Regions from separate parts of the Homo sapiens genome. Here all the other regions are linked to region 1. The links come from fine-mapping of genetic effects on plasma protein levels. Region 1 holds a variant in brackets. A gene starts in each other region. All regions are shown on their forward strands.

Region 1 (4,196 bases):
AGAGCTCAGAGTCAGGCGAGTGTGAGATGGTGTGGATGGAGATTGGCAGGTCTAGATCCAAGGACTGGGCTGGTGGCAGTAAGACTGCAGCCCACCACGCCTCCCCTGGGAAGGGAGCTGGGTAGTACATGCTGTTGCTCCCACCTCATAGTTGCAGAGTCCGAATTGTTTCCAGTGGATCCTGGATTCCTCAGGCCCAGACCTAATCCCTGAGCCTGCCTGGGGCCTCCAAAGCTAGCCTGGCTCCCTAGGGTCCTTTGATTTGGGGGTGGTCCAGGCCATGCAGGTAGAGCTTATCCTACTCTGGACCTGCCTCCCTCTCCAGGGTCTCTAGCCTCACTCCTAGGCTGCTCATGCCCCTTCCCAGTGGCTCTCAGATCCTGCTCCTCCTGGTGCTTTCCTGCTGCACTCGTCCCTCTTTCTGCTCTTTTGTTTTCTGCCCATTGAAGAAGCCCTTGCTGCCCCTTCGGAACGCAGTCTGGGCCTACTCTCTGCACCTCTCCAGGGACCAGCAGAATTTAGTTCTAAGGGAGCTGTGCCTTCACCTCCCCGCTCAGGGAGGCACCTAAGCTTTCTGAGGGGGAATTGGGCCCTTCTTGAGAGCTGGTGGCTTTTCTCCCAGATGCCTCCTGGAAATCTTGCGGACATTTGAGCGAGCTCATCAGGTGACCTACAGCCAAAGCCCCAAGATTGCCACCCTGATGAAGAGTGTCAGCACCAGGTGTGTGGATATGTGTTTAGAGGTGAGGATGTGGCCCGGATGGAGAATACTGAGAGCAGGGAGACTCTGTGAGACATGTTAACACGGTATGGGCGATAGGATTGCATGTTGAAGGGTCATGGTTTGTTGACTCCTGTGTTCTTCTGTGGACATCTCTGGCCTCTTTGCACGGTGATCTCTCATGTCCTGACCTCTGACCCATTCTCAGTCTGGAGAAGAAAGGCCACGTGTACCTGGTTGGCTGGCAGACCCTGGGCATCATTGCCATCATGGATGGAGTAGAGTGCATCCACACCTTTGGTGCTGGTGGGACCCCAGTCCAGATGTTCTTCCTGCTTCCTCCTGATCCCAACCATTCGGGCTGCTCTCCAAACACTGTCCTACTCCCAACCCATGGGTGTTCCTCAGTGTCCCACCTTCCCTATCTAAATAGGCACTTCAGTCAAATTCTTCTTCCTTAGAACCCCAACTCAGTCCTTGATCCCTTCTCAGCTCCCACCCCTGTGCTTAACTATGGCCTCCCACAAGGGCTACTCCTCACTCTACGCCCCACTTGCCACTTTTCCTCCCAGTCCCATTTTCTCCCCCTGAAGCCTAGAACCTTCCTTTCCTATATAGCCAATCACTCCTCTCTCCTTGTTCTTAAACTTCCCAGATTTCCGAGATGTCCGTGGCTTTCTCATTGGTGATCACAGTGACATGTTTAACCAGAAGGCTGAGCTCACCAACCAGGTCGGAGAAGAACAGGACTTGGGGAAGCTGGGGAGACCACTAGTGTGCTGAGGGTGGAAGAAAAGGGGAAGGCGGAGCTAGGTGGGAAGTTCATTGGAATAGACGGTCCAGAGAAGAGAATATGGGTCAGAAGTCATGAGGCTTTGGCTTAGCATGGGCAGTGTGGAAAGCTCTAGATCCAGTCCCCAAACTTGGCCCTAGTCCACTGACTTGTTACATAATCTTGGGCAAAACACTGTACCTTTTGAACTTCAGCTCTTTCACCTGTGCACAAAAGTGTTAGATCTCCTCCACGGCCCCCTTTAGTCCTCAAGTCTGTGCTTTAGAGTGTTTTCATGGGAGGGACCCTCCCATCTTCTTCTGCCCCAGGGTCCCCAGTTCACCTTCTCCCAGGAGGACTTCCTGACTTCCATCCTTCCCTCTCTCACGGAAATCGATACTGTGGTCTTCATTTTCACCCTGGATGGTGAGAGGGAAGATGGGAGTGGTGAGGGGTGGGGAGGGGGAAATAGAATGGTTCAGAGGAGCTGTTGTTTTTCTGGGTCTTAGGGTACCTGCTCAGAGGGAGGGACGGGGTGAATATCCTGACTGGACCCCAGCCAGGGGAGCAGGAGGAACAGCTGCACAGCCAGCCTTTCGACTCTGATGCCCTCCCCTTCTCCTAGACAACCTCACGGAGGTGCAGACTATAGTGGAGCAGGTGAAAGAGAAGACCAACCACATCCAGGCCCTGGCACACAGCACCGTGGGTCAGACCTTGC[T/C]GGTGAGAGTCCAGCCGTGACAAAGGGACCCAGGTGGCAGTTGCAGCCAGGCCTTCCTGGAGATGCCTCTCCTGCTCCTCTTTCTCTCTCTCCAGATCCCTCTGAAGAAGCTCTTTCCCTCCATCATCAGCATCACATGGCCACTGCTTTTCTTTGAATATGAAGGGAACTTCATCCAGGTATGGGGAATGAGAAGGTCCTATCTGCAGTAAGGGGCTCAGAGGGTGAGGGATTCCAAGAATCAAAAAACCCAAGGCTGTAGGGCAGAAAGTTTGGAGACCTCTCTGACCCTCACAAAGCCAGCTGGGCAAGGTCATGGGTTACCAGGTTACTAGTCAGAATTCCCAAGGCAATGAACTACTGGGCTCAGCTGTCTCTAGGAATATGCAAAAAGTTGCGGGATAGGCCTCCAGTCACCTGACAGATGTTCATTTGTCCTTTGGGACAGGTTAATTATTTTTACTTTGAGACAGAGTCTCACTCTGTCGCCCAGGCTGGAGTGCAGTGGTGCAATCTTGGCTCACTGCAACCTCTGCCTCTTGGGTTCAAGTGATTCTCGTGCCTCAAGTAGCTGGGACTACAGGTGTGCACCACCATGCCCGGCTACTGTTTGTATTTTTAGTAGAGATAGGGTTTCCTCATGTTGGCCAGGCTGGTCTCGAACTCCTGACCTCAAGTGATCTGCCTGCCTCGACCTCCCAAAGTACTGGGATTACAGGTGTAAGCCGCTGCGCCTGGCTGGGACAGGTTAATTCTTGATACCAAAGTCATCATCATTATCCAAAAGCTTTTACCACACCTTTTTTTTTTTTGCAAGTTTACTATGCTGAATTCATTGCAGATAACTTTATGTGCATATAGTCCCTGCTTGCCAATGAATTATAATCCAGCACAAATACTGATAATAATTACAGAAATAATAATCAGTGTGTGTGCTCTTTGCAATTTAGAGCTTTGTGTGGGCATTGGGAGCTCTGGATGCCGGTCTAGCTCTACAGTGTGGCCCAAGAAAGCAAGCAATTTTACATCTCTGGTTCTCAGTTTTCTCATACACCACCTGCCCACCCTCCATGGGCAGAATCAGGGCCCTGAAGGGTTGCTCTGGAGAGATGTGGTCTCTTATTCGTTATTCAAACCATGTCTGTCAGAAGTTTCCTGGCTTGACCAGACACAGCTGAAACACTGACTTACCTGGACTCAGAACTCGTATAGAAGCGGAAGTTTCTCTGCCCCTGAACAGGGAATCCACTCTCCTTCCAATGTCTTTCATTCTTTTTATTTTTTAAAGACAAAGTCTCACTCTGTGGCCCAGACTAAAGTGCAGTGGTGCCATCTCAGCTCACTGCAACCTCCGCCTCCCCTGCTCAACTGATCCTCCCACCTCAGCTTCTCAAGTAGGTAGGACCACAGGCACTCACCACCATGACTGGCTAATTTTTGTATTTTTTTTGTAGAGATCGGGTTTCTCCACATTGCCCAGGCTGTTTGCCAACTCCTAGACTCAAGTGATCCACCCGCCTTAGCCTCCCAAAGTGCTGAGATTGCAGGCGTGAGCCACTACGCCTAGCCAAAACACTGTATTTTTAAAGAAAAATGTTCATTTTAACAGCCATACATTTTTTATAGATACATTTTTTATAGTAAAGACGTTACAAATTACAGAAATGCAAAAAAGAAAAAATCACTCCAAATCTACCATCTTCAAAAAAAAAAAAAAAACACTCTAACAAATTTTGGAGAATGTCCTTTTAAATTTCTATTATATGCATATATAAATATATTTGTACAAAAGTAAGACCATACTTGATATGCTGTTTTAAAGTTGCTTTATGAACATCTTTCTGTACTAATAGATCACCATCATTTTCAAAAATTATTATTATTATTATTTATTTTTATCATGCCGGGACATGTTCTCATCTGATAGATCACTACTATCATTTTTTTTTTTTTTAAGATGGAGTCTCGCTCTGTCACCCAGA
Region 2 (4,196 bases), not on the chromosome of region 1:
CGTCTCCTGGGTTCACACCATTTTCCTGTCTCAGCCTCTGGAGTAGCTGAGACTACAGGTGCCCACCACCACGCCTGGCTAAATTTTTTTTGTATTTTTAGTAGAGATGGGGTTTCACTGTGTTAGCCAGGATGGTCTCGATCTCCTGACCTCATGATCCACCCATCTTGGCCTCCCAAAGTGCTGGGATTACAGGCATGAGCCACTGCACCTGGCCGAGGATCTCTTTATATTTAATCTATTTGGAGTTCTTTTGGGCTTCATAAATCTGGATGTTTATTTCATTTATGTCTCCAAATTTTGAGAGTTTTCTATTCTTATTTTTTTAAATAAGTTTCTGCAACTTTCTCTTTCTCTACTTCTTCTGGAACTCTTCTAATGCATATTAATTTTCTTAACAGTGTCCTATAAGTCTTGTCAGCTTTCTGCAATTTTTATCATTCCTTTTATTACTCTGACTGGGTAATTTCAAATGACCTGTATCTGAGCATGCTGATTCTTTCTCCTGCTTGATCTAGTCTGCTGCTGAAGCTGTTTGTGAATTTTTTCAATTCAGTCATTTTGTTCTTTAGCTCCAGAATTTCTGTTTCATTCTTTTTTATGGTTCCTATCTATCTTTTTGTTGAACTTCTAATTTTGCTCATGTATTGTTTTCCTGATTTTGTTTACTGTCTATCTATATTGTTTTGTAGCTTATTGAGCTTTCTTAAGGCAATTATTTTTAGCTCTTGTCATGCAGTAAAGATCTCCATTTCTTTAGGGTCACCTCCTGCTGCTTTATTTCCTTCCTTTGGTGGTTTCTTGTTTCCCCGATTATTTGTGATCAGTGTGGCCTTGCACTGAAGTAGGCACCTATTTCAGTCTTTACATACTAGCTTCAGCAGAGAAAGCCATTCACTAGTCAGATTGACCAGAGATTGTTGGTGGGCTGTCTGTTGGGGTCTATGCACAGGATTTCTGCTGGAGTTCTAAGGTGGGAAGGGCTGGATTCTGGGTTCATTCACTGTGGTTGTCTGTATTCTGTGCACAAGGACTGGCTTGAAGCATGGATCCTTGGGGGCTGACTTGGCACTGAAATGAGCCTTAAGCCTGCGTCTGCAGGGGCCAGCCTAACATGGGGATCACCTGGCACCTGAGTTCATGGGGATAGGCCTGTTCCTGAGTTTATTCAGGCTGTCCTGGGAACAAGGTCCACTGGGGTGAGCCCAGCATCTGGGTCCACATGGCCCAGCATGGAGCCAAGATCTCTGGAGGCTGACCTGGTGCTGGATCTGCAGGGGATGGCCTGGATTCTAGGCCCATGGGTGCCAACTTGGAGCCTGGGGTTGCTGGGGCTAACGTGGAGGCTAGATAGAGTCTTGGGGGCCAGGCTAGAGCTGGAGCAGGCCTGAAGTCTAGGTTTTGTGTGGCCATCTTGGAGCCTGAAGCCCCAGGGGCTGACCTGGTCTGGGGTGAGCATGGGGCTGAGGCCACAGAGGCTGGTCTGGCCTGTGGCAGGCCTGAATCCTGGTGCTGGGGTTTACTGGAGTGGGCTTGGTGCTTGGGATCTGTGGTGAAGTTAGGTTCTATCTTAACTGTCCCTCCTCCATGCAAGAGGGCATCTCTCTCCATACTGTGCTGCCCAGGCTTGAAGGTGAGATGACACCGGTAATGTGAAATTGTCCTTCCTATACACTTCTATGTGTCTTTTCTTATTTCTGTGCTGCAACCAGGTGGCATAACCTCTCACCTGATTCCTTAGCTCTAGTGAAGTTATTTTCGTGCATGGATACTTGTTCGAATTGATGTTTCTGCAAGGGATGAGCGCTAGAAACTCCTGTTCTGACAAACTCCTATTCCTATTCTTGCTGACATCACTCCCTGAAATAGTTAATATACTTAACAGCTGAACACGGATAGGATGTTCATGGAATATGTTGACAGGACAAAAAGTTGAAACTGTTGGCAGAAACCCAAAGTCAATATTGAAGCCAAGCAAAATATTGCCTGCAGTGCCACATTAGAACAGCTTGAAGACCGTTCATTTTTAAGTGACAAGAGACTCACCTCCAAGAAGCAATTGTGTTTTCAGGTAGCAAATTTTTATTATTCTGATTGTTTCCAAATAAACTATAATTTTTAAGTATAATTTTTTACTTTATGAGAAAATTAATCATTTATATTCTAATTTCCTGAGTATGTAGAGAGTATAGATAATGTTCCTTTATGTAGAAATATTTAAATGTAAGATGATTTTAAATCAGAAAGAATATTTGATTGATTTAAAATTTTTAAATGGGCTTTAATATTTTCAGAGGTTTTCTTTACTTAGGGATTTTTGGACTGACATTATTGCCATTATTTATTAATTTTGTTTTTGCCCAAATCAAGAGGTTTCATAATTGTTTACTCTCTCTCTACCAATTCCCTTTCCAACATTACTAGCCACAGAGTTGGCCAATGAACAATAAACACAACAGTAGTCTGGAGGTCTCAATTTGTATCTTGGGAAGCATTATAAATTTTCCAACTCCCTAGACACAAATGTACCAAAAAAAAACCCTTGTTTTCTATACCAGTAATTGTGTGCTTTGTCTTGCAATTCAGACATTTACAAGAAAATCTAAATCACCTTAAATTAAGATTTATGTTAAATGTGGTCTAAAACCAGCAGAGTTATGTATTGTTTTCTTTTTTAGAATGATTTTATTCAAGCAAGCAACTTATTTCATTTCCTTGTTTGCTACAGTTTCCTGTGGTAAGTGAATTATCTATAAAACATGGAATTCAGGCTAAGACAGGAGTAGCCAAGCAAGTGGCACCACCCCTGGAGAAAGCTATTGAACATACAGCTTCGGGGGTGGAGATTGTCCCTGATGATTCAGGACACGTGTCTATTTAATGTTCCACAACAAGGACCACTTGTCAGGTATATTGCTGTAGACATATGTTGCAGACCAGAGGAAGGAGCTCAGAAGTAGGAATGTCTTGGGACTTGTGTTAACAAAAACTTCTGTTCGCAGATGACACTCTGCAAAGCAAAACTTGAAACAAAAAAAAATTAGTCCTCTATTTTTATTATCAACAGTAAAAAATTAAACTTTATCTGAAAATTCAAAAGAGTGCTAGGCATTTTATAGTGTCTGGGTCCAATCCAAGTATCTGTTAGGAACACCATACATAGTTTTACTCTGGACCGCTAGGGAACCATTTCAAAAATGAAAGTAACTGGTTTAAATTTAACTTAGCAAACCATGCATTTGGATAGTTCTAGGTGAATAGCTTTCAACACCAGATTTAGATCTCATTTCTCTATTAATTTCATTAATTTTTGGAGAATAAAAATGATTCTGGACATTTCATTAATCATTACAGAGGGAGTTTTCTCTGTGTCCCCACAAGGCATGATTCTGGGTCTATGGTGACTTAAGAGGGCCACACAACAATGAGTATTTAATTTTCCTCAGATGTATGGCTACAATAAACATCTATAGGTAAGGTTTACATTCATAAAGAGACCTTTTTTTTTCCAGGAAAAAAGACTTTTATTCCCCCTAAATCACAACTCCCCTGTGTCTGTCCCTCAACCCTGATTTCTCTTCTAAACCGTAATTTACAAACCCATGTGCAAACCCACTGAAAGGTGAGAAGGAGCATAAGCCAGAGACACTGGGAACCACAGCCAACTACAGGGGGTTTTTCATTTTTTTGTTTTGTTTTGTTTTTTGGCAAAATAAATCATGATTATGGCTAGGAAAATCAGGGATGTAAGTAAGCAAAAATTTAGAAACTACATATTGCATGTAGTCCCCAAATTCAGAAACAGTCATCGTTAAACATCTTTTATTTAGTCTTTCAGATATTTTTCTACATATACCTATTTGCACATTTCACAAAAAAGAGTTATTAACTGTGGACACTCTTTGACTTGCATTTTCCACTTATAGCTATCTTTTGGTGCAAATAAGTAATATATTTTGGAGCTTGCTATTCTTCTCTTTTTATGGTATTTTTGTGTGCACATTCTTATGCTCTTATTCAGTTATTTCTGTAGAATACAATTTTTGAAATAAAAATACTAGATTCAAAGGTGTGAATATTTTTGAAGGTTTTGTGGTGTGGTATCATGAAATTAGGTTTCAGAAAGTTTACTCCATAGTTGACTTTTTCTACCAGCTAATAAGAGTGCTCATTTACCCCACTTAGGCCAACTCTAA
Region 3 (4,196 bases), not on the chromosome of region 1:
GTCTGTCCAGACAGATCCCATTGTAATGGGATCTTTTATTAAAAGATTAGCACTATCTCCTGCAGTTGGTGGAAAAAAATCTGTTATCACTGAGTTATTTGCAGTTGTGGAGGGGGGAAGGTTGACGGAAGATGGGGGGTGGGAGGGCTAGAGGAGGACTGGGGGAGGGTCTGGCGGGGGGAGGGCAGTTGCAGGGGGGGAAGAAGGGCAGATTTGAAATTCGTAGAACAAATCCCAGTGACCTGCGAATGTCCAAGAATTTTGTCTGCATACTTCGCTATCTGTTGTCCTTCGGGCTTCAGATGCGAAAAGAACAAATTTAAAAGGCAGCTTTGGAATAAACAATATAGCATTTTCCGTGAAGTAATCGTTTTATATAAAAGGAAATATCGCCTCCTCAGTTTCATTCAGCGGTGCCAAAAATGTTATAAATGAGAGACCCGCCAACTTTCAGCGAAGAATGCCAGGCACTGTACTTAATAAACTGAGGCTACAGAAGTTCATTATGGATGTTGCAATCTTTTTTATTCCGCGAAAAGAGAGAAGACGAGACAGAAAGAGAGAGAGATTGGAGCCGAGGAGACTGAGAGACAGACAGAGGCACACAGGACAGAAACTGGGGAGTCTCCAGGCGGGAGAGGAAGGGGGGGCCAGACCGCCTACGTCGGCGCCCCCGCTCCGGGCTCCGACTCCAGACGCCGCGAAGTGAAAGGGGAGAAAAGAAAGGGAGAGGGCGAGGCTGTGCCGCGGGGAGACCGGGCCTGAGGTGTTAAACATTTTTGTTTGCTTCCGACTAGTCCAGACGAAGGGCCGCGTCTCGGTAGCGCTCTGCCAGGGTGGAAGGTGCCGGGGCCGGGGTTCCTAGCAACACCTCTGGGCTGGGGGTGGCTGCAAAGTCAGGCACTCACAGACCCAGACACAAAACCTCGCGGGTCCCGCGCCCAGGCTGCGGGTGCCCGGAACCGCCGCGAGGCCGGCGCGCTCCGACCCGACCCGGGGCGGGATATTTGGGCAGCCCGGGGCTCTTCGGCCGTTTGCAAAAGTCTCTTTGGAGCGGAGGAGAGGCAGCACGGAGACAAACTCCCGGGTTCCCCCCGCCACCGCCTCCAGCGCCCCCACCGCGCCCTCCCTCTCACACTCGCGCGCGCGCGCACACACACTCACACACACACTCACACACACACCCGCCACCCCGGGCGCGCCGGCGCTGCCGGCGAGCGGCGGCGAGCAGGACTTGAAGTGGGTGTTCTTCCCCACTCCCCACCCCCGACGCGTAGCCCCCAACCCCCGCCCCGGTCGCCTTCCCCCTCCCTCTCGCTCCTACGCAAATAAGAACTCGACGATTCCCTTCCAGCCGTTTTGATTTCGGGCACCTCCGAAAGATAATTGGGAAGGGTTTCCAGAAGGTGGGAAATGTCACCTGATTCACACTGAACTTTTGAAAGCTCCCCACCCCCAAGGAGCCGCGCACACCCTCGCTCGCGGCCGCCCTCCCACAGCCCCACACACTGGGAGACCGCCCACCGCAAACCGCGGAGACCCCCGTCTAGATTTAAAGCGCGGCTGCGCCCGGCTTCTGACGTCCATTGAATCGCGCGGGCGGCCGGCGGCGAGCGCGGGGCTGCGCCGGGATCGCTGCGCCCTCCGCCGCTGGCCTCTGCGACGCGCGCCGCTCGCCCGAGCCACCCGCCGCCGCGCCGGCTCCCCGCGCCGCTGCGCTCCTCGCCCCGCGCCTGCCCCCAGGATGGTCCGCGCGAGGCACCAGCCGGGTGGGCTTTGCCTCCTGCTGCTGCTGCTCTGCCAGTTCATGGAGGACCGCAGTGCCCAGGGTAAGCGAGTGGGGATGCGCTGGGGAGGCTTGGCTGAGGACAGGGGGGTCGACTTTTCTGTGGTCTCCACTTGGTCTGTTCTGAGCAACGCTGCTCTCGGAAGATGTTGAACCAACTTGGGGACTCCGGGATGGAGAGGAGTGGGAAAATTGTAGGCAATGACACTTTAGGACTGGGAACTGAGTTTGGAGCTCGGTTATCTTGAAAAAGGAAAGGGAGCGAGCTGGGGTCTTAGTAGTTAGGGTTAAATGCTCCAAGTTCTGGCCATGATAACTTTAGATGTGATCTCCTCTGTTTGGCTCTGAAGAAGGGAACAAGTATCAGTAGTAGCCTGGAGATTTCAGTCGACCCATTTGCAGTCTCATCTCTCTCCCTCCCACATCTTTTGGATACTTAAAAAAAAAAAAGGAAAGAAAGAAAAGAAAACCTGGGGGTTTGGGGGAGAGATACTGAATTTTATTTGGTGGCTGGGGGACGTGGTTTCAGAAACTTTGCCCAAACTTGGAAATGTGGGTGCTGAAGATTTTCAAGGGAAGTAGCTTTCTGCCTAGTGGATGCTTCTTCCAACCCCATCCCCCATTCTCGCAAAAAAAAAAAAAAAAAAAAAAAAGCCAAATTATTACCCCAAAGTGCTTTGAGCACTTTACAGTTTTTTTCCCCTCTGCCTCATTCTTCTTTCTGACCCTTAGCTTTCTGTAAAACAGTGAGCAGCCCATAACTGACTTAAATTCTGAAATGGGTTAAGAGCAAATTTCTGAAGCTTGCCTTTTAAAAATAGATTTGTTTATTTCAATTAGTCTTTGGGCAGAATGTTTAAAATAATAATAGCAGCTTGCGATCCAATGATTGTTAAAGTCATATTGGTGATTCATGAGAAGTCTTCTCGACCCAAATCCGAACATTAAAAAGGGGGAAGAGGGAGAAATCACTTGCAAATATTTCTTGCTAGGTATGAGATAGGTACTTATAACCGTGAAATGGTAGGAAGACTCCCCCCTCCCCCCACCTTAAGGCATTACTTTCCCTGCTTCAGCGTTAACATTTTAAGTATGTTGTAAACTGCCCTCCTGGGCACTGCCCCTCGCCGTCTGCATGGCACTGCGCTGGGTTGCCCGCCTTTAGAGGAGAGGCTCTGCCTGGTGCCCGGACGTGGGCGCGGAGGAAAGCAGCCCTCGGAGATTTCGAAAGATCGCGGTGGCCGCGGGCGTGCTCCGGTCTGGCGGATTGCAAAACGGGCCCGTCGGGCTGGCTGCGCCTGGAGGCCGCGCGGGGTAGCTCCGGGCTGGGCCGGGTTGCTTTTTTGCTTTCATTTTTCAGAAGTGCCTTTTGCTTGATCTGTTTCTCTCTCTCTCTCTTTCTTTTCTTTCTTCCTCTCTCTCTTTCTTTCTTCCTTTTTTTCTTTCTTTCTCTTTCTTTTCTTTCTTTCTCTTCTTTCTTTTCTTTCTTTCTTTCTCTTTCCTTCTCCCTCTCTCTCCCCTCCATCTCTCCTCTCTCCTCTCTCTCGTTCTCTTACTTTCTTAACCCCTGTCACAAATAATTCCTGTACCCGCCTACATGAAACCAGCATGTAAAAACATCCGTCGCATCCTGTTTTTGTCAGGTTCTTTAATCTGCTCTTCGAGTCTCTGCAGGTTATGAAATGGGACGAATAAAAGTAAACAGTCTAGTAAAAGTCAATGCAAGCTGCACGTGTTGTGTCTGGGTCACTGGTAACTGACATTGATATGGCTGGGGCGCCCTGTCTTCTCCCTCTCTCCCTCCCTCCCTCTCGCCCACCTCCCATCTCTGTGATCAGGGCTTCCCCCTCCACTGCCTTCTTTTTCCACCCCTCCACCCCTTTCGATTTATTTCCTACTTTTCTCCCGCGTCTCTCTCACTTCCCCTCCTCCACGCTCACCCCCTCCCCATCCCCGCCGGGTCTCCTTCGCTAGCCACCTCGCTCTCCCTGCCCTGCCACCGCTCACTGCTCACTCACCCACCTCCCCACCCTTGTCTCTTCACAGCTGGGAACTGCTGGCTCCGTCAAGCGAAGAACGGCCGCTGCCAGGTCCTGTACAAGACCGAACTGAGCAAGGAGGAGTGCTGCAGCACCGGCCGGCTGAGCACCTCGTGGACCGAGGAGGACGTGAATGACAACACACTCTTCAAGTGGATGATTTTCAACGGGGGCGCCCCCAACTGCATCCCCTGTAAAGGTAGGACTCCTTCTTCCCAACTTGCAGGCCCTCAGTAGAGGGCGTCTTACCCTTAGCTTCCCCACTACCTGACTGGGGTTTGGGAGTAGGAGAGCTTTGTTCCTGGGCTTCCCCTTCCTGTCCCTTGCCCTGGTAAGCCGTGCAGACTCTAATTCTGCCTGTTACAGGCTGT
Region 4 (4,196 bases), not on the chromosome of region 1:
TTTGATTCCACAATATGTAACAGTTTCTTTTCATGTGTAAGAAAAATTGTTAGATGAAACCAATGATCTAAATATAAATAAGTCCTAATACCCAGATTCAGTCTAGAAGGGATTCAAGATAAATACAATAATATCTATAATATGAGACAGATAGTGGTAACAGCCATAAAGGCTCTAAAATGATGGTAATAATAACCATCCAGATACTGTTCCATGTACTTTATGTATATCATAGTATCTCATTTATCCTTAGAGAAACACTGTGAGGTAGATAGTTTTATCTTTGTTTCACAGAGAAGGAAACTAAGGTTCAGAGGGGTTTAGTGACTTGCAGAATAGTCAGCCACTAGTAAATGGCAACATTGGAATTCTATCCCAAAGTCTTTGATCTTAACCTTATGGGAAGTACGAAAGAGGGGAAATAATGTATAGTTGGGATATTAGAAAAGTCTTCATGAAGCAGATTGTTTTTTATTTTTTATATTTTTGTATAAATTCAAGGCATACAAGTTTAGTTTTATTACATAGACAGCAATAACATAATAGTGAAGTCTGGGCTTTTACTATAACCATCACCTAAATAAGCTTGAGATTAATGTGGAAGAATGGCTGGAATTCCTAGAAACAGGAAAAGAAAATAAGAGAGAAATTCAAGACAGTATGAAGGCACTGAATAGAAGTAATGAAATCAAGAAAGCCAGGAAGGTATAAAGAACAACAATTAGAGGTGTTTGACTGGAGAATAGGATTAGATTCTGAGATAATAGCCAGGTTAGAGCCAGATTGCAAATGGCATTGGCTTCCAAGCAAATGGTCTGTATTTAATTCAGGAGTCAATAGATGCATAATCCCAACTTTATCACTAACCTATACTGTGCAACAAGCCAGATAAGGCTTCACAACCTGGGATTCCATTTAGAGAAAAAAAGTAGAGAATGGAAACTCCCCAGGGATGAGAATAGGAAGGATACTTTGAACAATGATAGAGAAAGTGTATTCTTGGTGGCAGTGATTGTGTCATTGAAAAGGCTGATTAGGTCTGTGGTGAGCTAACAGAAGAGAGAGTGAACAAGAGGCTAAACAGTAGGATGAGAAACAAGACACCATATAATTCAGGGATGAGAGAGAAAGAAATAATGTGGCTAGAAAGAAGAACTTCAGTTTGATATCTCAGAGGCAGAGAAGGTTTGAGTGGTGGTTAATAAACTGTACAGAGAGAGAATGAAGGAGACATAGAAAGAATGAAGGTGGAGATCTCTGGGGCTGTGAGAGAGCCAGTGACCACTGAATCCCCAGCACCTAGTGTAGTAACTGAGAGCTAGTGAATAAATGTATTAGTGGGGTCATCACCAAAGATGGATTAGATATACACTCAATGACCAAGGACTCAAAGAAGAGGAGAGAAAAACTTGGGGAGATGCTGACATCTCTGCAGGTAGCATGAAGTAACCAGAAAACAAGTCGTAATGAGAAATGGAAAGATCTAGGATAAGGAAGCACCATGATATGCAAACGAAAAAAAAGCACTGAGTAGAAGTAGCAGAAAAATACTAAGCTTCATGGGGACAGAAAGTTTATTCTCCAAGTCCCTCTTTCCCCTTAGCTTTGCCTGGATGTATTACTTGATGTTGAATTAGTCAAAGTTGAAGGCACTTTTTAGGGTCTTCAGCAGAAAGCAGAATCCTAGAATATCCTACAAATACAAGACAACTTGAGAACTATAAAAGAAAGAAAAGGCCTTGTTCCCATAGCCCACAAGAGGGCTGAGCTCAGCGATACACTCTGTGTGGCTCAGGAGCTTCTGGCAGAGCACAGAGCCATCAGAGAGGGGGCCCAGAGAGCAGAGAGAGGCTCTGCTGACATGGCCAGCCCAGCGCCTCATCCCATCCATAACCCTGCTGCCCTGCAATGACTCTCTTCCCAGCAATAAAATCTGGGTCACAGGAGTTGGAGCTCTAGCCATCACTTGTCTCTAATAAATAACTCCCATTGATTTTCCAGCTCAGGGCTCACCACTCCTTCACCGTAAGCGCCAGGAGGCAGACCTGGAAAATCACTCACATATTATTGGTGCTCTTCCTCCCCCATCCTCACCCAAGGTGCATATAAACCCTGAATAACCTGAAGTCTAAGGGCATGAATATCAGACGCTAGGGGGACAGCCACTGTGTTGTCTGCTACCCTCATCCTGGTCACTGCTTCTGCTATAACAGCCCTAGGCCAGGAATATGAACAAGCCGCTGCTTTGGATCTCTGTCCTCACCAGCCTCCTGGAAGCCTTTGCTCACACAGGTAAGGAGGTGAAGGAATGGTCAAGAATCATAAAGTGAGAAAATAGGTTGAAGCTGAGATATCTTTTCCCTGCATTTATACTGAAGGTCATTATCTTTCTTTCTTTATCCCGCAGACCTCAGTGGGAAGGTGTTTGTATTTCCTAGAGAATCTGTTACTGATCATGTAAACTTGATCACACCGCTGGAGAAGCCTCTACAGAACTTTACCTTGTGTTTTCGAGCCTATAGTGATCTCTCTCGTGCCTACAGCCTCTTCTCCTACAATACCCAAGGCAGGGATAATGAGCTACTAGTTTATAAAGAAAGAGTTGGAGAGTATAGTCTATACATTGGAAGACACAAAGTTACATCCAAAGTTATCGAAAAGTTCCCGGCTCCAGTGCACATCTGTGTGAGCTGGGAGTCCTCATCAGGTATTGCTGAATTTTGGATCAATGGGACACCTTTGGTGAAAAAGGGTCTGCGACAGGGTTACTTTGTAGAAGCTCAGCCCAAGATTGTCCTGGGGCAGGAACAGGATTCCTATGGGGGCAAGTTTGATAGGAGCCAGTCCTTTGTGGGAGAGATTGGGGATTTGTACATGTGGGACTCTGTGCTGCCCCCAGAAAATATCCTGTCTGCCTATCAGGGTACCCCTCTCCCTGCCAATATCCTGGACTGGCAGGCTCTGAACTATGAAATCAGAGGATATGTCATCATCAAACCCTTGGTGTGGGTCTGAGGTCTTGACTCAACGAGAGCACTTGAAAATGAAATGACTGTCTAAGAGATCTGGTCAAAGCAACTGGATACTAGATCTTACATCTGCAGCTCTTTCTTCTTTGAATTTCCTATCTGTATGTCTGCCTAATTAAAAAAATATATATTGTATTATGCTACCTGCATTTGTTTAGTGCTTGTCATAGTCCCATATCTTTATCTTATGTCTACTACTTATCTATCTACTAATTGGTGTTTCATTGGTAATTGGTGTTTCATTATCCTGAAAACTCCAATTGCCAAGTACGGGGAGGAAAACCTGTAAGTAACTAGAAAGATATATCACAAAGCCAGAGCACTCAATGAGCACAACAGTGGCAATACTTAAAAGCTACTAACAATCATTTTAATGACGATTCAAAATATGTGTGGAATTGTAATCACAATTCTCCTATTTGTTTTTCCAGCTACAAATCGATCAAAAAGGGGTCTGAGGTTGCATCAGGTAGACAACTATAATGATATAAGTAAGCAATAGTTGAGAACCTGACAGCAAGTAATAAGACAGGAAGAATAAAACTAGAAGAAGTCAGAATGAAAACCAAAAAAGTATGAGACTGGGATCATTTTGTATGAAGACAAACATAACTTTATGTCTCAAAAACCTCAGTAGGACTGTACAATGCTTGATTTTCATAATGTTCTCTTGATGTCATCAAAAAATATTATACTCTGAATATTGCTCACATGAATATGCTGTCTAAAATTCTTCCATGGATTCACACTTCTTACAGGACATGATTTAAACCTCTAAATATGACATTGCCCTCTATAACCTGGTCCCAGTTACTCTCTCTGAAATGTACACAGAGAGTATACACAGAATACTCTCTGAAATGGACTTTCCATGTACATTTCAGATACAACTCTTAGCAGAGCAAGCCACATCCTAACTATCACACTGAAAAATAATTGTCAGATGCTATTACTAGTAGTTATTTTTATGGTTATGAAAAGCATGGAACACAGTGCCTGGCACATCGTCAACAGATATAAGTTGCATTCCCAGAGAAGCAAGGATCCCAGAGGGAGTTTGAGCTACATATATGGGAAATAAGACAGGCTTTTCTCACTGATAATAAGTAGAGCATGTAGTCAGTGGAATCAGAAAGATAGCATCCAGAAGCTTCAGGATGGTAACCA
Region 5 (4,196 bases), not on the chromosome of region 1:
TGCCACTAGCAAGGGATCTCAGTAATGAGCGTGCTGCCTTCCCTAACACCCCCATCCTTTTCCAGAAAGATTCTTAATTTTATCCTAAATATATTTGATATTTTTTCCTCTGTATTTTGCTTTGGGTTTAAAAAATTCCCTGAAAGATTTTTTTCTCGTCTGTGGAAGCATCAAGCCGCAGATCCAAGTCAGTCCAAATCACCAGGATCATACAAGACGATAAAAGTGCCTTCAAGTTCTAATACTTGCTGGATGGGCCCAAGCCGCGTTTTAAATGTGAACAATGGGGTGGCTGCGGCAGAGAACTGACCATTTACTTCCTGCCTCAGATGACCCCCTTGTGATCTCTGAAACTGGGCAGAGGAATAAGGAAAGGGAAAGAACTGGGTTTTGGGGAGAAACATGCTTTCTGGAAGGCGCCCAGGTTTACCCAAAGAGCACAGTTAAGTGCTGAATTTCAACTAGCTCTGGAGTCACCCTGTTTGGGGCCTCATTCTGGAAACCCGAAGTCCAGCGGCAGCTTTCCTCCACATCAGGACAGAGAGTGGGGTTTGGGAGCGGACGAGGGAGCGGGAGTGGACGAGGGAGCAGGAGTGGGGCTCAACGACGACCCAGGCGCTCAAGGGGAAGGGGCTGAGAGCGTTTCTTCGCTGTGCGGCTGCAATAGAAACTTTTTCCTCGTACTATCTGACTCCGGGACTGGACTGTGAGGTCTGCAACAGCTGGTGGGGTTCGGGTGGGGAACACACTCTAAGCCCAGCGCCAGGGCTGGAGCCGTGGGTGGAGCCGCTGCAGCCCTGGGCCGGGGGCGTCAGGAAACTCGAGACTGGGGCGCGGGGAGGCCCCGGCCAGAGCGCCCGCTCTCCCGCGTCCCGGGCGGGGTCCTCACCTGTTCCAGCGGGCCACCTTCCTCCGGTAATACCGCAGCGCCTCCTGGCTGGCCAGGAGCGAGTCCTCGGCTCCCAGGAGAGGCGGCTCCTCCGGGACGTTGTACAGCGGGTGGGCGAAGAGGGCCTGCAACTTGGAGCTCGACCCGCTGTGGCTGCCGCCAGCCGGTTCAGTCCGGGGCTCGGTTCGGGAAAAGTTGTGCACGATCGTGCCGGGGTCCGAGGCAGCTGCGGCCGAGTCCCGCGCCAGGGAGGAGGCGCGGCCGGTGCACGGGCACCCCCGCGGGCGCTCCCGAGGCCGCAGCTGGCGCTGTACTTGGGGCCAGAGGTGGAAGTAGAGGTCGGCGGAGAGCAGCGCGCCCAGCAGCAGCAGAGTCAGTAGGCGGTCCCGGCGCAGCCCCGGCATGGCGTGCTGGCCAAGGGGGACGCCGGGGGCAGGCCGGCTGTCTCCGGGGTCCCGGGAGGGGTCGCGGGGTGCGGGCAGAAGAGGTGCCTGGAGTCCCGCGGGTGGGCCGGGGTCAGTGAGACCGGAATGCTCCCCGCGCGGGCTAGTCCCCTGTGGAGGGGTGTCGCTCCTCAACTTGGGGACCAGGTGCACGGAGCACCGGGGCTCTCGGAGTCAGCGGGCGTCGCTTCTCCGCGCCGAGTGAGCCGAGGGAATGGGGTTCCCGGGGTGCCCGCTTCTTGCGCCTTTTCTCCCGTGCGCCCGCCCGCCCGGACGCTCGCGGCAGGTGAAGGGCCCCGGGGCGCCGGCGCCGGCTGCCACCGCGGGCGGACGGGCGACGGGGCGGGGGGCGACCGCGGAGGGCGGACGGAGGCCGCCGGCTGCAAAGCCCGGGGCGTCTCTCCTGAGGATGCTGTCGCTCGGCGGCGGCTGCTAGTGCTCCCGCGACTCCTCCTGCGGGCGGCGGAGACGCCAGTGCCGGCGGCTGGCACGGGCGGCGCGAGTGGGGAGTTGGCGAAGCAGGAGCGGCTCCGGGGAGCTTGTCTGTGCGCCTGGACTCCTAGAGGCAGAGGTAGCGCGGGGCCTCCCCGAGCCTGGCCTGGCGCCGGCACCCCCACCCACTCTCCGCTGGCACCTGCCTCTGGCGCAGCTGACGGCCAACTCCCGATCCGAAGCCGGCGCTGCCCTTGCACCTTGTCACCCACCCACTGCCTGCGCCCTCCCCCTCGCTCGGGCCTCCCACTTTCCCTGCCCAGGTCTCAATCCAGTCACTTTAAGGGACTCACGCGAGGGGTCCGAAGCCTCTTTTTACCATTTCTATTATTTTTAGGGAAAAAAAAACCACCACAAGCCCCCTAAAACCCTTTTTTTCCTGTAAGCTTTGCCAAATGAGTGTGTGGGGGGGGGTGGGGGGAGGCGGGGGTGGCAGTGTTGGTATCTGTTCTTTCTTTGTGTTCCCTTCCACCTCCGCCCCCCTGCAGAGCGCAGGGCACATCAAGATTCATAACAACTACCTACCACATGCCTGGCACATAGTAGGTGCTCAGGAAACACGCTCTTGGTGAAGGAAAGAGCTTGACCTTTAAAAGTAAGGTATCAGTTTTACCTAGAATCTTGCTGATTTCCTGTTTGGAAGGAGTTTGATTCCAACTCTGCCTGTACTTTAAAAAGAGGAAATGTTTCTTGCACTCAGGGAGGGAGGGGCCCTGATGACCCCACTCCGAACTTTTGAGTTTAGCTTGGTGTGAAAGTAGTCCACCCAAATGAATCACTGGAGGACACATTTAGGCTTTCTCCAATATTCTGTGAGGTAATGTACCCTCCCCACACCCAGTTTTCCTTTTGAAGAAGAGGGAGGGAGTCCTGAACTCCTGGCTCCTCTATTTAATGACCCCATAGTATAGTAAAGTGAAGTCTGATTGGAGAGGCGGCCCCACCCTGCTGAATTTCAGGAAATCCACCAGAAGCTGCTTGCCCAGGCAGCAAAGCTTCCCATGTAAGTTAGTTCTACTCTTTAACCCCCTCCCTTCCCTTGCTGGAATTGAGAACCCTCAGACATACTTTGACTTGTGGGTTCAGACCAGAGTTCTTTTCCCCGTGGTTCAGTGTAAGATTTCTTCGGGACTTTGCAGTCTCCTCAAATGTAAATGAAGATAATGATGGAACCTACCTCCTAAGGTTATTATGAGACTTAAATGAATTGAAGTACAATTATGTGTCACGTCTGAGAAATGCATCCTTAGGCAATTTTCCTGTGTGTGTGAACATCAGGGTGTACTTACACAAACCTAGATGGTTCAGCCTACTACACACGGAGGCTACATGGCATAGCCTGTTGATCCTAGGTACAAACCTGTACAGCATGCGACTACTGAATGCTGTAGGGAGTTGTAACACAGTGGTGAGTACTTGTGTGTCTAAACATAGGAAACATACAGTAAAAATACAGTATTGTAATCTTATGGGACCACTGTTGCATTGACTAAAATGTTATGTGGCACTTGACTATGTATAAATTACTTAGAAGAGCTCCTAACTCATCCTAAATAAGTGTGAAATATGTGTTTGCTATCATTATGATTACTTATTAGTTCCTGTAGTACACTAGGCTTGGTTAGAGACTGCTCATCGCTAGGACAAAAATAGAAAAGGATGGAAAAGGAAGATAGCAGGAAGGAACCTGCTTTCAGGGGCATAACATTGTGGCCTGAGTGCCCAGTCCAAGTGAAAAAGCCCAAGACGGTACTATTCCCAGCTACTCCACTCCTCTGGGTATGATGGTGGGCATTTTGAGGGGTTCTAGAACCTCCTCCTTTTTATCTGGAATTAAATTTTAACTGATTTCCAATTTCTGAGAGACGTTGCAACTTCTAATGTGTTTAATTAGATGTCATGGCAAGCGAATGAAGAAGTCAGGCATTGAATGGTGGTGATGTAACTGCAGTAACTGTGTGGCAAACTGATGCGCATTTTTCTCGGCTGGCAAAGGACGTGGATGTGGTGACACTGCAGGTCTTGTGACTTCAATTCTCCTCAACCCATGGGGTCATACTCGCTTAGTAGACTCTTTTTTTTCTGGCCCCAATTTAGGGAACAATAGTGTAACTTGCTTGGAAATTATGTAAACATATTTTCCATGCCCTTTAAAGGTCACAGTCAAGTGCAGAACTGCATGTGGGAGTTAGATATTAAGTGTGAATGAAGCTGGATAGGAGAGTGGAAATCCTACCAGTAGGATTGGCCAATAGGATGTTGGCTTCCTCAGGTTTGCCTCTAATCTACCTTTACCCCTCCTAGAAATGAGCCTTCTCCTGCTCCTCCGATCTTCCATGTCTTGGGCCCTGGCTTACTTGCCAGCCTCACAT
Region 6 (4,196 bases), not on the chromosome of region 1:
TGGTGTGAGAAAACTCAGGGAAGGTTAATCTCAGTTAATGAACACATATTTACCGAGCATGCCCTCTGTCCTACAATCTGGGTGCAGGCTATATAGAAATAGATGACCCATCCCTGGCCTCTAGCTGGGGATTTGGAAAAGTAAACATTCCTTGTGACACTGCGTGACTAGTACTTTAACAAAGGTAGGCACTATGATGAGCAGTGGGGATCCTAAGGAGGGGTTCATCTGTGCCTAGACACCTGGCGTTGCTGCTGGAAGACTATAAACATGCTTTCGGTGGCAGTGAGAACAAATGGGACCGTGCATTGCCAGCTGGCTTATGCCTGTTAGCTTAGGGAATGAGAATGAGTGGAAACCCAGGTGTCTGTAGGAGCTTCCTCTTTCTCTCCATGTCCTCTTCGGGTCCATCTGCCACCTGAATCCCATCTTTGTATCTGGGCAGCTGATTCCCCTCCAGGACCTGTTAACTATCATTTACTCATTGGCAGGCCCTGAGCTGAAAGCTGGTGATCCAAAGAGGAAGGTCTCAACCTCAGATCAACCTCAACCTTAGTCACCAACCCAGCCCAGAATTAACTGGAGTTTGCTTCCCCTTGGTGTTTTAGACAGGCTTGCCTGGGTAAGCATTTTCTCTGGAAATTTCTTACTACGTTGGCCCTGGCAGAGTGCTAAATACCTCTCTACTTTCTGGCAGGAATTCCCCATGTTCTGTGAGTCAAAAACCACTGGCAATTAGAAAACTTGCCTTGAATCCTCCTCCCATTTCTCAGTATTAACCTTTCATTTGTTCTTCAGAGCTTTCTTCCAGCTATTGCCCCCTAAGAAACCTCAGCAGCCTAGCCCCATAGGTCTAAGCCTCCAAGTTTCCCTTTGAAAACAAAGACAGTCTCCACTGCAGATGAACAGATAATGGAGGAAAGTCACAGATGCTCCAGCACAAGCAGAAAAAGAGACATCCTCAACCTGATTTCTGCTTTCCATCCCACTCCCCCCACCCCTAGAAAGCCTCCTCCATGCCTCCAGGGTCATGTCAGCTCCCCAAACCCTTGATCCGGAAACCCAGATTTATTCACCAGAAATGACTTACTGGTGTTTCTGCAGAGCAGGGACTCAGTGACAAGGACGCTGGCCCTCTAGCCTGGGGCTCTGGCAGATGCCTCAGAGTGAGGGAGGAGGCTGGGCTCAGCAATGTAGGGCCCAATCAACCTTGTGAACAAGGATATCCTGGGCCTGGCCTTCAACTCCAGATTAATAAACAGCTCTTCTCAGAACTATGAGAAATTTAGGAGCCTCCAATACAGTGCTCGGCAGCTGTCTGCTTTAATACAGCACAATTCCTCTTTCAATTGCCATCCATTTTGGCAAATCTCATTGCTGAACTACCACAGCTAGGTTCACCTAGTTAGTCCTGTTGACATCCTTGTTTCCAACAGAAAAACAAAGATACTCACAAATGCATACACATGCTCATGCACACCAACTATACACACAGACACGTGCATGCACGCACACACCCATCCATGAAACCACATAGACCTCTTGCTGCCATTAATGCATTAAGGCCATTCCTGCCTCAGACTCTTCATTTGATGTCTCCATGCCTGGACCCCTTACGGGCATCGCCAGCTAGCTCTTTCTCTTCTATTCAAATATTCCAATTTCAGAGAAATCAGTACCTTGATCACTTATTCTAAAATAGTCCTACCTAGCAGTCTCTATCCTCTTAGCCTGAATTATTTTCTCTCATGTTACTTACACTTTATGATATTATAGTCATTGACTTTACTTTTCCAGTTTTTCATTGTGGTAAAATAGACATAAAATTTACCATTTTGACCATTATTATTAAGCACACAACTCAGTAGCATTAAGTACATTCACACGGTTGTGCTATCATCACCACATCATGGGATGATTTTCATCATCCCAAACTGAAACTCTCAACTCATTAAACTAGAATTCTCCATTTACCCCTACCCACAGCCACTGGTAACTTCTGTTTTACTTTCTGTCTCTCTGAATTCATCTATCCTAGGTACCTCATATATGTGAAATCATACAATAGCCCCCTTGTATCTGGCTTATTTCACTTAGCACAATGTCTTCAAATTTCATCCTCATAACAAGAATTGTAAACTGTGTTAAAGACTTTGGGTTTCCTTCCAGGGGGCACTAGAGGGACTGCAGTAGTGGAGAGGTGATCACATTTGAATTTTGCAAGGCTTGTTCTGGCTATGATGTTGAGGGGAACAGGACTGGAGAAAAGCAGATCTAAAAGGAAGTGCTTGCCATGATCTAAGCAGCAGAAGACAGTGGCCTGGGTCAGGGTAATGGCAGCTAGATTAAGAAGGTAGGCACACTTGAGAAACAGGAGGTATTGATTGCACTTGAGAATTAGCTAGAATAGTGAGTGATAATAAGAAGTTTTCATGGGCACACACATTTATGACTTGACTATCTAGGAGCCACTCAACTGAGATAAGAAGCAAAAGAACAGCACTTGGCACTATAAGATCATGGGTATCGTGTGTGTTAATGGCTTGAACCATCTTGCTGTGGTTAATGGGGACAATCTAGAAGGGATGGAAGAATACTTTTACGAACATAGTTCATTTGATTCTCAACTACATTACTGATATGGCTTTCAGAAAAATGCCATGTAGCTTGGGGTGTTGGGGAGCCCATCCTGAGAAGTTCAGAGGCTGCGGGGCCATGTGGTGGGGGTACTATGGAGGCCTCCAAACACCAAAAGAAATGTGAGTAAGATGCATTTCCAGGTCCCTTCCAATTGAAGTCTTCTTGGCTTGTGGAGGGACTGGCTTCCTTACTTCCTGCTGACCTGTCTGCTGTGCCTGGAAAAATGTCCAGGATGGTACAGAGCCACATGCCTAAAGCCATCAGTGGATATCAGGAGATCCAGGGCCTAAAGAAGACAGGGCCTGAGAAGACTTGTTTCCCTTCTTATTCTTTAGCAGCCAGAGCTTCCCCCTGCTCCTGCTCCAGTGGCAGAAGGTGAGGTGAGGTAGTTGACTCCAGGTCACTGGCGGTGCTGGCTTTAATCACAGTGCTTGCTTTCATTGTTTACCTAGTCCAGAGGTCAGGAAACTGCTCTCCAGACCCTGAAATTTCCTAGAACTGGGTTCAGAGGGTGTGGGTATCTGGGGGAAAGTCAATCTAGCAATTGATCCGGAGATTGGAGTGTCACCCAGTTACATCCTGCTCTCCAGAAGGCCTTTCCCAAAAGGAGAGGCCACTCTCCACATGCCGCAGCCTGAATGTCTCTCTCCACACGAATGCCCACTCTGCACTCCACCCCATAGATAAGGCCACTGTGTGCATTTGTTCTGGACTTTAAAACCCTTCCCAGCCAGGCGTGGTGGCTCACTCCTGTAATCCCAGCACCTTGGGAGGCCGAGGCGGGCGGATCATGAGGTCAGGAGATTGAGACCATCCTGGCTAACACAGTGAAACCCCATCTCTACTAAAAAATACAAAAAAAAAAAAAACAACAAACTAGCCGGGCGTGGTGGCGGGTGCCTGTAATCCCAGCTACCCAGGAGGCTGAGGCAGGAGAATGGAGTGAGCCCGGGAGGCGGAGCTTGCAGTGAGCTGAGATTGCACCACTGCGCTCCAGCCTGGGCGACAGAGCCTCTCCGTCTAAAAAAAAAAAAAACTTTCCACTTTCCTAACACTGCTTCCATTCTGGCAGCGCCACAACAAATCCACCTCACCCCAAGAGGCTGCAGAGAAAACTGCCTCTCTGACCTGCAGGAGGACTGCCTGGTGCCCTACATCCCCTTTTTTGTAGACTAGGGTGAAATCCCAGCTCTCCCACTTCCCAACAGTGTGACCTTATTCAAGTTCCACTGCCTTCATGTCCTCAGTTTCCTCGTCTGGGAAAGAGGGCACCGCTGCCTTGGCTGTGGAGTGGTGTGTCCTTAACTGGTCCACATTCAGAGTGCATGGCACGTGGCTCACCATGACAGCCTGCTTAAGAAAGGCCTTCATTCCCTCCAGGGTGACTGTTCAAGAGTCTTCTCAGCTTGGGAAGCAGTGTTCTTGGGTGGCTCCATGTGAGAGGCATGGTTTGAGATTGGAAACCAGAAGGCTTGGTTTTGTCTCATGAATATGAGCTTAGATAGACCCCATATTCTGGCCGAACCTCAGTTTTACATCTTTCAAATCAGATTTTG
Region 7 (4,000 bases), not on the chromosome of region 1:
GTCACCCTCATTTCAGAGAGCAGAATACTGAGAGCTGGAGGCCAAGGGGCAATTTCAGCCAGGGTGGCTGGTGACGCCTCGGTGAAACCAAGAGCGAACAGTGAGAGCAGCGGCCACCTGCTGGTCTGCAGGGATGGTGTCCTGGGCAGAAAGAATAGCAAGTGCCAGGGCTGTGCTGGGGCCGGGCTTTGCATGTGTGAGAACAAGACAGAGAATGAGGGAGGTGGGCCCACGAGGAGTGTGGGCACAGACAGCAGCCTCTGCCTGTGGTGCCACGCTGAAGACTCAGTATTGTATGTGACAGATGAAGGCTCTAAGAAGACAGCTCTGACAAAAGCTAGAGTGCAAAATCAGACTCAGACACAACCACCGGTCTGTGTCCTGAACACAATGGACCTTTACACTCTGGAATTTCTCAAACGGAGCAATGCACAGACACCCCCATGGGCCCCTTGCACACCCGCAGATTCTCCTAGGAGTCACATTCTCTCTTCAGATAGACTCTGGGTGCCGACACTCCCAAACATGCTCTTGAGGAGCAGTCTCTGTGATAAGCTGATCTTCCAGACAATCCAGAATATTCTTAAAACTTTTTAGATCATAAAATTTAAAACACAAATTAAAAAACAAATTATCATAAGGCCGGGCACAGTGACTCATGCCTGTAATCCCAGCACTTTGCAAGGCTGAAGCAGGAGGATCACTTGAGCCCAAGAGTTCAAGACCAGCCTAGGCAACATAGTGAGACCCTGTCTCTACAAAAAAGTCAAAAGTTAGCTAGACATGGTGGTGTGCACCTGTATTCCCAGCTACTTGCAGGGCTGAGGTGAGGAGGATTGCTTCAGCTCGGGAGGTTGAGGCTGCAGTGAGCCAAGATCACGCCACTGCACTCCAGCCTGGGTAACAGAGTGAGACCCTGTCTCAAAAAACACATAGGGCCAGGCGTGGTGGCTCACGCATGTAATCCCAGCACTTTGGGAGGCCGAGACGGGAGGATCACTTCACTCCAGGAGTTCAACACCAGCCTGGCCAACATAGTGAAACCCCGTCTCTACTAAAAATACAAAAAATTAGTTGGACATGGTGGTGTGCGCCTGTAATCTCAGCCACTCAGGAGGCTGAGGCAGGAGAACGCTTGAACTTGGGAGACAGAGGTTGCAGTGAGCTGAGATCGCACCACTGCACTCCAGCATGGGCAGCAGCGCGAAACTCTGTCTCAAAACAAACAAACAAACAAACAAACACCCATAAACACAAAATGTATCACAGCCTCAGAGATCCCCACGAATGCCTAAGTGGCCCTGAATTTGGGAGGCACTGCTCAGTAATAGTCCTATCTGTCCCACAACAGACAGGAGTGCTGGGCTGCACCTACTGGCAACAAACACAGCAACCCTTGACTGAAGAAAGGTCCATGCCACAATCCCCTTATTCTGTAAGCCACTAATTTTGTCCTCTCTCCTCCACCTTTCACTGAGGAACGAGCTCTTGGAAGGACAGGGACACCCGCCTAGTAGCTGAGCCAGCCACATCAGTCCTGGAGAGCAGGTGGAGGGCAGATGCTGTGATCATCCCAGAAGAGAGGACACAGTTGGAGGCAGATGCATGGTCTCTACTTTCAGCTACCCTCAATGCAGCCTGGTCCCCAGAGGCCTGAAGAGCGCCTTGTTTATGTGGTGACCTCAAGAGGGGCTGCTCCTGCACCAAGGCTATGTGTGCATGCTAACACAGTAACCGTCATATACTCAAAGTGTCAGCTCTAAGAACTGGAGATGAGGAGCTGCAAGCCACTCTACAGTTATCAAAGGCACAGCTGAGGGGGTTTGTGCTGACCAAGCTGGTTGCCTGGTGTTTGGATTGGGACTTATTTACTTTGGAAAATATGCAGCAACAGCCCAGCACCAAAGTTCACATCAAAATCCCACTGATGACCTTGGCTGCTTTCATCTCTGAAGCGCCACTTCTCAGAAACACAGAGGTAAGTTGGGTTTCTAATGTTTCTGCTGATTATAAATTATTTTTGGTGTTTACGGATAGGCAACTGGTTCATTTTTCTAGCAAACTAAGAATTCAGAAGCTTTCTACACTGTTTTAGAAGTGGGAAATGGTTTCATTTTTCAGTGTGCCTATTATAAAATTGTGTCAGTTCCATTGTTGGGAGAGTTGACAAACTTAGAATAGGAGCTGTGGAATAGATGAAAATATTGTACTTATATTAAATTAATCGAATTGGATAACTGTCCTGTGATTATGTATGAGAATATCCTTGCTCTTGGGTATTTTCCCTGAAGTATTAGTATTAAAGGTTAGAGGGGCCGGGTGCAGTGGCTCACGCCTGTAATCCCAACACTTTGGGAGGCCGAGGCGGGTGGATCACGAGGTCAGGAGTTCAAGACCAGCCTGACCAACATGGTGAAGCCAAGTCTCTACTAAAAATACAAAAATTAGCTGGGCGTGGTGGCACGCGCCTGTAATCCCAGCTACTCAGGAGGCTGAGGCAGGAGAATCGCTTAAACCCGGGAGGCAGAGGTTGCAGTGAGCGGAGATCGTGCCACTGCACTCCAGCCTGGACAACAGAGTTAGACTCCGTCAAAAAAAAAAAAAAAAAGAAGAAAAAAGAAAAAATGTTAGAGGAACAAGATATAGGAGACCTACTCTCAAATGGTCTAGAAGAAAAAATGTGTATGTGCATGCCTGTGAGAACACACACGTACGTACACACACACACAGATAATGACAGGGCAAAGGTTCCAAAATTTTAAACCTGGTAAATCTCGGTACGGGTATACAGGAGTTGTTCTACTACACTATTCTTTCAACATTTTTGGAAGTTTGAACTTACTTCAAAATAAAAAGTTTTCCAAACTTTAGGCAGTTACTTCTCTCCCATTCTGCCTGCTCTGTTGGGCCTGGAGACCATACACCAGGAGGGATGACGGTTTATCAAGTGTTATGCTCTGATGCGTGACTGAAAAGGCCAACCCAGCTCTGGCAATTAGCAAGAAAGCACAATATGAAGTTCCCAGGAAAAAAAAAAAGCAAAACAAACTTTTGAATGATTTATCTTTAAAATATATTGTTTCTCTTCAAACAGTAATCTGGATTTAATCACAACCTAGTGATAGTTTTTAAACGTCTTCTACAATGTTTGTTATACTAAATAGCAAAACATCAGGAAGATTTACCTTCAGATCTTTAATTTCAATCCATAAAAGATATCAGAGATATTTTCTCCTTCCTCTGGTAAGGGAATGACGAAAACTATTTTTGGCTTTTTATCAGATAATGTGGGAACAGGGTATAAGAAGTTTCCAAATATAACTTCTGAATACCGGGATAAAACATGCATGTCTTTACTCTGCCACTCTATCTGGCCTCAGATACGTTTTCCTGAATGCTTATTTATTCAAGTTGGTTTTTGTTTTGTTCTTTAACCTTATTTTTATCTGAGAAGAAAACATTTTCCCCCTTTGTTCCTTCTTCTTTTGGCTTTCTTTTTTAAAATAGAGATGAGGTCTTGCTATGTTGCTCCAGCTGGTCTTGAACTCCTGGGCTCAAGCGATCCTCCTGCCTTGGCCTCCCAAGATGCTAAGATTACAGGTGTGAGCCCCTATGCCTGGTCTTCTTCTTCTTGATCTTAGCCAAAAGGCCAAGAAGTGATAAGAGGAGGACACTTGAAGTGTAGTTGGGCAAGGAGCCTTCTACCAGCTGCTTACTTTCTTTGTTCCTGACTTTTAAAAGTGTGTTGCTATTGATACACAGTCTCCTGATATGTAAAATGCTGGGAGGATGAAGCTAAGTTACTCAAAGTGCCATTCAGAAACTGGGCCCAGTTCTATTTGCAGCTACATACATTAGAAATCATTTCTAGAGGCTGAGCATGGTAACTCATACCTGTAATTCCAGCACTTTGGGAGGCCAAGGCAGGAGAATTGCCTGAGCTCAGGAGTTTGAGACCTGTCTGGGCAACATGGTAAAACCCCATCTTTACCAAAAACAC

Alleles and levels. Positions count from the first base shown, and alleles are read on the strand shown. Strength reflects both the effect of a copy and how common the allele is.
For the plasma level of the protein whose gene starts at base 1,991 in region 2, allele C in region 1 goes with a lower level than allele T (moderate association).
For the plasma level of the protein whose gene starts at base 1,582 in region 3, allele T in region 1 goes with a higher level than allele C (moderate association).
In carriers of allele C in region 1, the plasma level of the protein whose gene starts at base 2,133 in region 4 tends to be lower than with T alone (moderate association).
For the plasma level of the protein whose gene starts at base 1,994 in region 5, allele T in region 1 goes with a higher level than allele C (moderate association).
In carriers of allele C in region 1, the plasma level of the protein whose gene starts at base 1,138 in region 6 tends to be higher than with T alone (moderate association).
With allele T in place of C in region 1, the plasma level of the protein whose gene starts at base 1,946 in region 7 is higher (moderate association).

What was found. PIP is the chance, under the fine-mapping model, that this variant and not a neighbour inherited with it causes the effect. Protein levels are from antibody-based Olink assays in UK Biobank. Linkage for the fine-mapping came from a reference panel and not from the study's own genotypes, which makes the PIPs less certain.
Region 2: it holds the start of KLKB1, and the variant in region 1 is fine-mapped to the plasma level of the KLKB1 protein (UK Biobank, PIP 0.98).
Region 3: it holds the start of FST, and the variant in region 1 is fine-mapped to the plasma level of the FST protein (UK Biobank, PIP above 0.99).
Region 4: it holds the start of APCS, and the variant in region 1 is fine-mapped to the plasma level of the APCS protein (UK Biobank, PIP 0.92).
Region 5: it holds the start of FAM20A, and the variant in region 1 is fine-mapped to the plasma level of the FAM20A protein (UK Biobank, PIP 0.97).
Region 6: it holds the start of MBL2, and the variant in region 1 is fine-mapped to the plasma level of the MBL2 protein (UK Biobank, PIP 0.98).
Region 7: SERPIND1 starts here. The variant in region 1 is fine-mapped to the plasma level of the SERPIND1 protein (UK Biobank, PIP 0.98).

The regions. Positions count from the first base shown.
Region 1 is chr2:27,505,859-27,510,054 of GRCh38, forward strand. It overlaps GCKR (glucokinase regulator), which reads left to right. Exons shown (of 19, transcript NM_001486.4): 11 at 623-721; 12 at 930-1,027; 13 at 1,377-1,453; 14 at 1,823-1,919; 15 at 2,119-2,216; 16 at 2,310-2,393. Among named protein-coding and RNA genes, the nearest start is that of GCKR, 11 kb to the left of the region's middle. The variant T/C (reference allele first, on the strand shown) is at 2,215.
Region 2 is chr4:186,225,517-186,229,712 of GRCh38, forward strand. KLKB1 (kallikrein B1) reads left to right here and starts at 1,991. Exons shown (of 15, transcript NM_000892.5): 1 at 1,991-2,071; 2 at 2,679-2,737. The coding sequence starts at 2,680. RefSeq lists an enhancer at 498-1,168.
Region 3 is chr5:53,479,048-53,483,243 of GRCh38, forward strand. FST (follistatin) reads left to right here and starts at 1,582. Exons shown (of 6, transcript NM_013409.3): 1 at 1,582-1,829; 2 at 3,833-4,024. The coding sequence starts at 1,745. RefSeq lists an enhancer at 2,815-2,884.
Region 4 is chr1:159,585,694-159,589,889 of GRCh38, forward strand. It overlaps APCS (amyloid P component, serum), which reads left to right and starts at 2,133. Exons shown (of 2, transcript NM_001639.4): 1 at 2,133-2,292; 2 at 2,408-3,172. The coding sequence starts at 2,229. The coding sequence ends at 3,015.
Region 5 is chr17:68,599,374-68,603,569 of GRCh38, forward strand. FAM20A (FAM20A golgi associated secretory pathway pseudokinase) reads right to left here and starts at 1,994. Exons shown (of 11, transcript NM_017565.4): 1 at 890-1,994. The coding sequence starts at 1,293.
Region 6 is chr10:52,771,647-52,775,842 of GRCh38, forward strand. It overlaps MBL2 (mannose binding lectin 2), which reads right to left and starts at 1,138. Exons shown (of 5, transcript NM_001378373.1): 1 at 1,091-1,138.
Region 7 is chr22:20,772,168-20,776,167 of GRCh38, forward strand. SERPIND1 (serpin family D member 1) reads left to right here and starts at 1,946. Exons shown (of 5, transcript NM_000185.4): 1 at 1,946-1,978. All of the region lies in intron 19 of PI4KA (phosphatidylinositol 4-kinase alpha), which reads right to left.